Linked DNA regions of Homo sapiens. The protein of the gene in region 2 purifies or fractionates together with the protein of the main gene of each other region. This does not show direct contact. Each region holds a gene or a part of one and is shown on either strand. Other genes may lie near its edges.

The links. Proteins that work in one complex are often made in the same cells at the same time.
Region 1: the proteins of PNLIP (region 2) and LMF1 purify together in Homo sapiens (affinity purification with western blotting, with the first as the bait; one study listed by BioGRID). This does not show direct contact.

Annotation. Positions count from the first base shown.
Region 1 is NC_000016.10:960,985-964,484, forward strand, and holds part of LMF1 (lipase maturation factor 1), read right to left. Parts: intron 1-3,500. UniProt on the Homo sapiens protein: Involved in the maturation of specific proteins in the endoplasmic reticulum. Required for maturation and transport of active lipoprotein lipase (LPL) through the secretory pathway. Each LMF1 molecule chaperones 50 or more molecules of LPL.
Region 2 is NC_000010.11:116,544,440-116,548,730, reverse strand, and holds the start of PNLIP (pancreatic triacylglycerol lipase precursor), read right to left. Parts: upstream 2,801-4,291; 5' UTR 2,773-2,800; intron 2,639-2,772; coding exon 2,593-2,638; intron 1,438-2,592; coding exon 1,283-1,437; intron 372-1,282; coding exon 249-371; intron 1-248. UniProt on the Homo sapiens protein: Plays an important role in fat metabolism.

The sequences.
Region 1 (3,500 bases), on a different chromosome or scaffold from region 2:
CACGGGATCACGACCCAGACAGACTCACGGTGACAGCACGGGATCACGACCCAGACACAGACTCACGGTGACAGCACGGGATCACGACCCAGACACAGACTCACGGTGACAGCACGGGATCACGACCCAGACAGACTCACGGTGACAGCACGGGATCACGACCCAGACAGACTCACGGTGACAGCACGGGATCACGACCCAGACACAGACTCACGGTGACAGCACGGGATCACGACCCAGACACAGACTCACGGTGACAGCACGGGATCACGACCCAGACACAGACTCACGGTGACAGCACGGGATCACGACCCAGACAGACTCACGGTGACAGCACGGGATCACGACCCAGACACAGACTCACGGTGACAGCACGGGATCACGACCCAGACACAGACTCACGGTGACAGCACGGGATCACGACCCAGACACAGACTCACGGTGACAGCACGGGATCACGACCCAGACACAGACTCACGGTGACAGCACGGGATCACGACCCAGACACAGACTCACGGTGACAGCACGGGATCACGACCCAGACACAGACTCACGGTGACAGCACGGGATCACGACCCAGACAGACTCACGGTGACAGCACGGGATCACGACCCAGACACAGACTCACGGTGACAGCACGGGATCACGACCCAGACACAGACTCACGGTGACAGCACGGGATCACGACCCAGACACAGACTCACGGTGACAGCACGGGATCACGACCCAGACACAGACTCACGGTGACAGCACGGGATCACGACCCAGACACAGACTCACGGTGACAGCACGGGATCACGACCCAGACACAGACTCACGGTGACAGCACGGGATCACGACCCAGACAGACTCACGGTGACAGCACGGGATCACGACCCAGACACAGACTCACGGTGACAGCACGGGATCACGACCCAGACACAGACTCACGGTGACAGCACGGGATCACGACCCAGACACAGACTCACGGTGACAGCACGGGATCACGACCCAGACACAGACTCACGGTGACAGCACGGGATCACCACCCAGACAGACTCACGGTGACAGCACGGGATCACGACCCAGACACAGACTCACGGTGACAGCACGGGATCACGACCCAGACACAGACTCACGGTGACAGCACGGGATCACGACCCAGACACAGACTCACGGTGACAGCACGGGATCACGACCCAGACACAGACTCACGGTGACAGCACGGGATCACGACCCAGACACAGACTCACGGTGACAGCATGGGATCACGACCCAGACACAGACTCACGGTGACAGCACGGGATCACGACCCAGAGGGAAAATAAATGGGCGTGGGTCCATAGTGACAAAATCAGTGACCACAAACAAGTAAGTAACAAGATCTTCCTCACAGAGGAATTCCACATAATGTCCGCAGACACTCCCTTCAGGAGGCGGGGGCTGGACCCAGTGAGCGGCTTCCAGAGGACAGAGCGGGCGGGAAAGCAGGGACCTGTCAGAGGGCACACCTGGCAGGCAGACCTTGGCCGGGTGATCAGAAAGCCGTGCGGACGTCAGGACCCTGATACGGTGTGACGGGAAGGGCCCCGCACCTCTGTGGGCGTCTTCCCAAAACCCATCACCCAGTCTAATTGCGAGGAAACACCAGACGGACCCAACGTGAGGGACGCTCTACAGACGCCATGACAGGCCTGCTTGACACTGTCAAGGTCGGAATCCTGCACAGGAAAGTCTGGGAGACTCACAGACCAGGGAGGGAGGGAGGAGACGCCAGGACAAAACCGGGTCCCAGAACGGAACAGGCACGGGTGGAAAAGCCATAGAGTCTGCAGTTTCAGTTAATAGTTTTATTTTTAATAAAAAAATTTTAAAAAGTAAAGGTTTCTCGAAGACTCTGCACCACTCAGTGCCCGGCATGAAGCGCTGTGAGCAGCCTCCCTCCAAGGCAGTGGGAGCAGGGCCACAGGCAGAGCACCGCAGGGCCCTGGGCGACGAAAGGGTCAGGGCTGGTGACCTCTAAAGGGGCTGCGACGGCAGGTGGGTGGGGGCAGCTCCAAGTGAGGAGGAAGAGGGTGGACACAGGCGGGCACGGGATGGACACAGGGTAAACAAAGGGCAGACACAGGGCGGGACACAGACTGGACACAAGGCTGGACACAGGGTGGACATGAGGTGGGACACAGAGGGGACTCGGGGTGGGTCGCAGGGCGGGAAACAGGGCTGCAGCAGAAGGCTCCCCACACCCCTACTGCCTCCACCACTGGGTGGAAGGGACCTGAGCTGTGAGCGCTGACCTCCTAGCAACATAGAGGACACCTCGCGGTAGGCCCTCAGCCCCGGCGGCCACACGTGCAGGGACCGCACCAGCAGCTTCCACAGCTCAGGCCAGTGTGTGTGCATATGGGTATGACATGCCCATGTGTCCCTGTGTGTATGTGTCTGTACACATGTGCACATGTATACATGTGCACCTGTGCATGGATGCCCTGTGTCCATGTGTGCACGGGTGTATGCATGTCTCTGTACACGTGTGCACATGTACACATGTATGTGTGCGTGTGCAGGGATGCATGTGTGTATGTCCTGGCATGTATGCAGGTGGGAGAAACACAGGTTGTGACTGTTCAGCCACTGCACACTCCAGGGCCCAGCCTTCATTGGTGCTAGGCTGGGGCCCCTTTCCCACAGGGACCTAATTGGCGCTAGCTGAAGGGTGGATGTGCTCCACCCCTCACCACAACGCAAACTCCAGGACCACAGAGGAAAACAAGATGTGGCCTCACCAAAGCAATAGCCTAAATCAGTAATTCTAAGGCAAGAAGCATAGGATGCTTCCTGCTTATCAGGAAAAAGGAAGACAGACTGAATTGAGATTTCAGAGAGAAAAAAACTATTTCAACCTCTACTCATGTTATAAAAATAGCTACATAAAAAGATGCAGTAAAAATCTTGAAACATCACAGGCTCTCAAAACAAAACTAACCAAGCAGTCAAGCTTCGGAAGGCCCCGTCACTACCCCACACGGGAGGCAGCAGAGCCATGGCGGCCACCCGCCTCTCACAGGGACCCAGAGCCTGACCTGGGAGCTGCAACGAGGAAATACCGAGGAAATACCGTGTCGCCCGAGCAGCCAACAGCAGGCATGGCCGATAAATACTTTGTTTCAGAATCAGAAAGAAATAGCTGGGCGTGGCAGCCTGTGCCCGTAGCCCCAGCTACTCGGGAGGCTGAGGCAGGAGAATCTCTTGAAATCGGAAGGCGGAGGTTGTAGTGAGAGGAGATTGCACCACTGCACTGCAGCCTGGGCGAAAAAGTGAAACTCTGTCTCAAAAAAAAAAAAAAAAAAAGAATCAGAAAAAAAAAATCAGCTTTCTCTTTTCTCCTTTCAGATAAATTGTTGTAAGATTAAAACAGTCATCCCAGAAATGCCGTTCTCTGTTGATGGTTCTTACTGGCCGTGGTTAAATTCTGGGCCTCAGCACAGTGACCTCAAGTATTTTTTCTTTAAGGGATGTGC
Region 2 (4,291 bases):
ATATCAGTTATTAAATAACCACTGCCTAGATCCACCAAGTGCTTGCCAGCCTCACTGCTCTGACCATCCTAAACCCCCTCTTCCCACCACCACCTCCTTGACCTCCCCTAGGAACTCCAGGCCCAGCAGGGGTCTGAATATCCTCCAAGACCTCCAAGCACTGTCCTCATTGGTCGGGGCCAGTGCCTTACCGTTTGTTAATTACCACTTTGGAAACGATCTTTCCTTGAGAGATGACCACATCTCACCTTGCACACATTGGCCAGCCAGTTTTCTTCTCCCTTGTCTATGAATCCATGAATAATAAAGCGAGTTTTTCTATTTGTTTTGAAATTGGAGCCACTGATGCTTGATGAATCTGCGGCAACTTCCTGTTTAGACAGAAAAGTGTTTCATGTCAGTTTCCTATAGTAGCCAATAGAACCATTTGTACATGGAGAGGGGCAGTAAGTAGAAGACTGCTAGGATTCAGGATCCTTGTGAATAATGATTCCTCCATAGCAACCACAGTATTCACTATCATCATCATGTTGCCATTTCCCAGTCATCACAACATGTTTGCCATTGTTCAACTTGGGATAATATGTCTGTTATAATCTTGGTGGTAATGATCTTTTCTTCATACAATGGAAGGCTTTGTGTGTGTGTGTGTGCGTGTGTGTATTTTTATATGTCTTTATCTATGTAGAGATACATATATATAATAGGAGATTACATAAATATATAATATTGGGAATGTTTATATACTTTATATGTATAAATATAGCCCTACATTTACAATATTTATTAAATGTTATAGAGGAAGGACAAGAATAATATGAAGTTAATGAATCTTTTATAAACAATTTACATTAAGTAATACCTAAGCTCAGTGCCCTGAATATCTACAAAGATGCAAATTTCACGGCTGATTTTTTTCTCTTAAGAACTTGAATATTCAGTATCCTTATTACAGAAAACAGGTGGAACTTGGTTCTTCTTCTTTTTTTTTTTTTTTTTTTTTTTGAGATGGAGTCTCACTGTGTCGCCCAGGCTGGAGTGCAGTGGCGCGATCTCGGCTTACTGCAAGCTCTGCCTCCCGGGTTCACGCCATCCTCCTGCTTCAGTTTCCCGAGTAGCTGGGACTACAGGCGCCTGCCACCACGCCTGGCTAATTGTTTGTATTTTTAGTAGAGATGGGGTTTCACCATGTTAGCCAGCATGGTCTCGATCTCCTGACCTCGTGAACCGCCCGCCTCGGCCTCCCAAAGAACTTAGTTCTAAACACAGTGATAGTTCTTACTTGAAAGTTGTTTGGGTTCTCATTAGTATATAGGAGGAAGCGGGTGTTGACATCTTTTGGAGACCAAGGCAATATATGGAGGGGTCTTTCCGTAATTCCTGACCATGGGGAGTCATCACTGAAGCAGCCGAGTCTTTCGTAGCAAACTTCTTTTCCTGCAATCCCCCAGAAGGATATTAGTTTTACAAACATGCTCTTTTTAATGATCTGTCTGCCAATATATGAGTTCAATTACACTGTGTGGTAGACTTTCCTCCTCTGCTACTCTCAACACCCTCCTAGCCACACACTCACAAAACAGCTTCAAAAGACAACACAACTATTCCAGACAGGCTGTTGTTCTTGTTCCTCAATTCTACCACATGGATCACTTCACTCCCCTTGTGTCTCTGCCCAATCCCAACGTGGGACTCCTTTTAGCCTCTAAACTCAGATATCTTCCTTGGGCTATAGGTGCTCAAGAAAGGGACAGCCCTGTGTCCCTAAGCCTTAACTTCTTGTAGCCACTGTTTAGCTGTGGGCTTTGAAAGGAGAGCTAAAATTTTATGGAAAGGCCAAAACCGTATATCCCCATCCTTGCTGTACTGCAGGACATCTTCATTCCTGTGATGAAGAAGCTGTTCACAAACAACCAAACCAAAAATCCATGGTTTAACACAACTCTAGGCTTGAATGTCACTCCATAAAAAAATAACCCAAAGAAGGGTTCTCTTCTCTAAGGAGGATAAATCTAGATTAATGGTAGGAGTAAGAGTAGCAGCTGTTGTGGGGGCTGCGTTTCTCAACATCTTACCATGTGTCAGGTGCTGGGTTGGATGGTTTACTAATCTGACCTAATTCTCACAATAATCCTAGGAGATGGGGAATCCGACTCTCCCCATTTTGCAGACAAAGATTCTGAAGCACAGAAGAGTTAAGAATTTTGCTCAGGGTAATACAGTTGTAGGTGGTGGTGGAGCCAAGGTTCAAACTCTTAACTTGACTTGATGTCAGGGTTGCTAGATTTAGCAAATCAAAATACAAGTAAATTTGAATTTCAGATAAATGATAATGTTTTAGTATAGATATGTCACATATTTGTTGTTTGTGGGAAATATTTGCTGTTTATCTGAAATTCAAATTTAACTGGGCATCTTAGATGTTTTCTGACAACCCTACTCCATGTACCTGTGCTCTTATGCGTCTCCTGTGCTTTACTCCTTGAAGTAAATCTTCATGTTATTACTGCGGCCTGAATTCAGCTGCCCTAGCCCTCCTGACCGTGTTGAAAAGTGAATCTCTCCCAGCTCAACATTTATTTGTTTTCTTACCTGCTACTGCTCCCAGCAGCAGTGAAAGAGTCCAAAGTGGCAGCATCTACACGAAATTAAAAACATGATTGAGTCTGGCTAAGTTTTTAAAAGATCGGCAAGTTTTAGTTCATTTAGACCTCTGGGGGAAAATGGATACATTCTGATCAATTAGGCCTGGAAAACATGTTCCCGACTCACCGTGGCAGTTCCGTCAGGTTCCACACGCAACCAGATAGCAACAAAAACTCCTTTTATAGGCGAAGCTTATCTTTTTGAAACCGTGGAAAAATGGCATGCAAAGAAAGGCCCAAGGATGTGTTTCTAATTTTAATCATAGATAAACTAAGGTTGACAGAGTAAAGTTTTCCATAGTAGTTGTGGGATGATGAGAAAGGGGGTAGATATGTGATTATGTAAAGCTCAAAACCACTTTAATTTCATTATAGTAAAGGTTCTATATAGTAAAGGTTCTAGTCTTTCTGTCTCTTTTTAAGTTCACAATTCTCTGTGCCTGTCTGTGGGCATGTGTGAAATTAAATTGTTTTCACAGATTTGATAACAGCAGTCTTAAAAACAAATACCAGCAGCCTACCAGCTCTTGCCATTTTTGTATAACCTTGCCTTACCCTCAAAAACAGTGAAATAGAAGCAATCCTTCAAGAGAGCTCATACCTTCTGGAAAAGCATTTGATTAATTTTGATAGTCCATAGAACTGATTTATTTCTCAACAATGTCATGGAGGAAAGAATAAACAAGCTAAGAAAAGGAATTGGAGGTACAGCCGAAAGCATAGAGGCAGAATCACTGACCCCACTATCAGATGAAATGATGAATAAGCAGAAAAAATATGACTCAACTTGGAAGAAAATGGTTTAGAAAAAATAATCTGAAAGAGAATTGTTTGATGGAAAATAACTGGGATGTTTTCAGTTAATGATGGATTGCTTACAATAAATGTTAAAAAGAGTACAATGTGATACCATAATTTTAAGAGACCAGAACCTTTTAGCCTGAAAGTGTCACAGCTATACACTGAGTTGTTGAAATTGTCACATTCGTAGGTCAAAAGTGGTCAAAAATAATTCAATCCCCTGGAAAAGTTTATAGGTATAGAGAAAAGCAACAGAATTATCGTGTACAAGGGAAGTTCAAGGAAGTTTGGCAAGGGAATTGTTAAGATAAAGACAGAAGGCACAAGGAAGGATCCATGGATGGACACCATGGCAAATTCCTACCTAATCTTTCAAATATCAGCCTTTCATCCCCTCCTCAGGCAATCTTCCCCAGCCATGGTTAAGCTGGTTCCCTTGTTCCCTCTAAGGAAGGTTCTTTTTAGAACTTCTCTCACTTAAGACTGATCATTTGTATATTATAAACTCAGAGAAGGCTGGAATGCTCAGGGCCTTGTTGTCACATCCTAGCACCTAGCCCAGTGCTTGATACACAGCAGGCCTTCAAAACATCTCTGATGGATGATTGAACAAATGGAATGAATATGAAAAGCAAAGCAATTTATTTTGCATAATGGCTGCAATAATAATTGTCTCCACAGTCTCATAAGTAAAAAGCTGTTGAAATTTCTTTTATTCAAAACATGTGGAAAAAAAAATCCAGAAGCCTCTAAAAACAGAAGTCTTGCATCTCTCTAGTATTTAGTGATGGTAATGCTACATTGATCTCAGAGTCATATCCTATGACAGTCATTGTTTCCTCTGG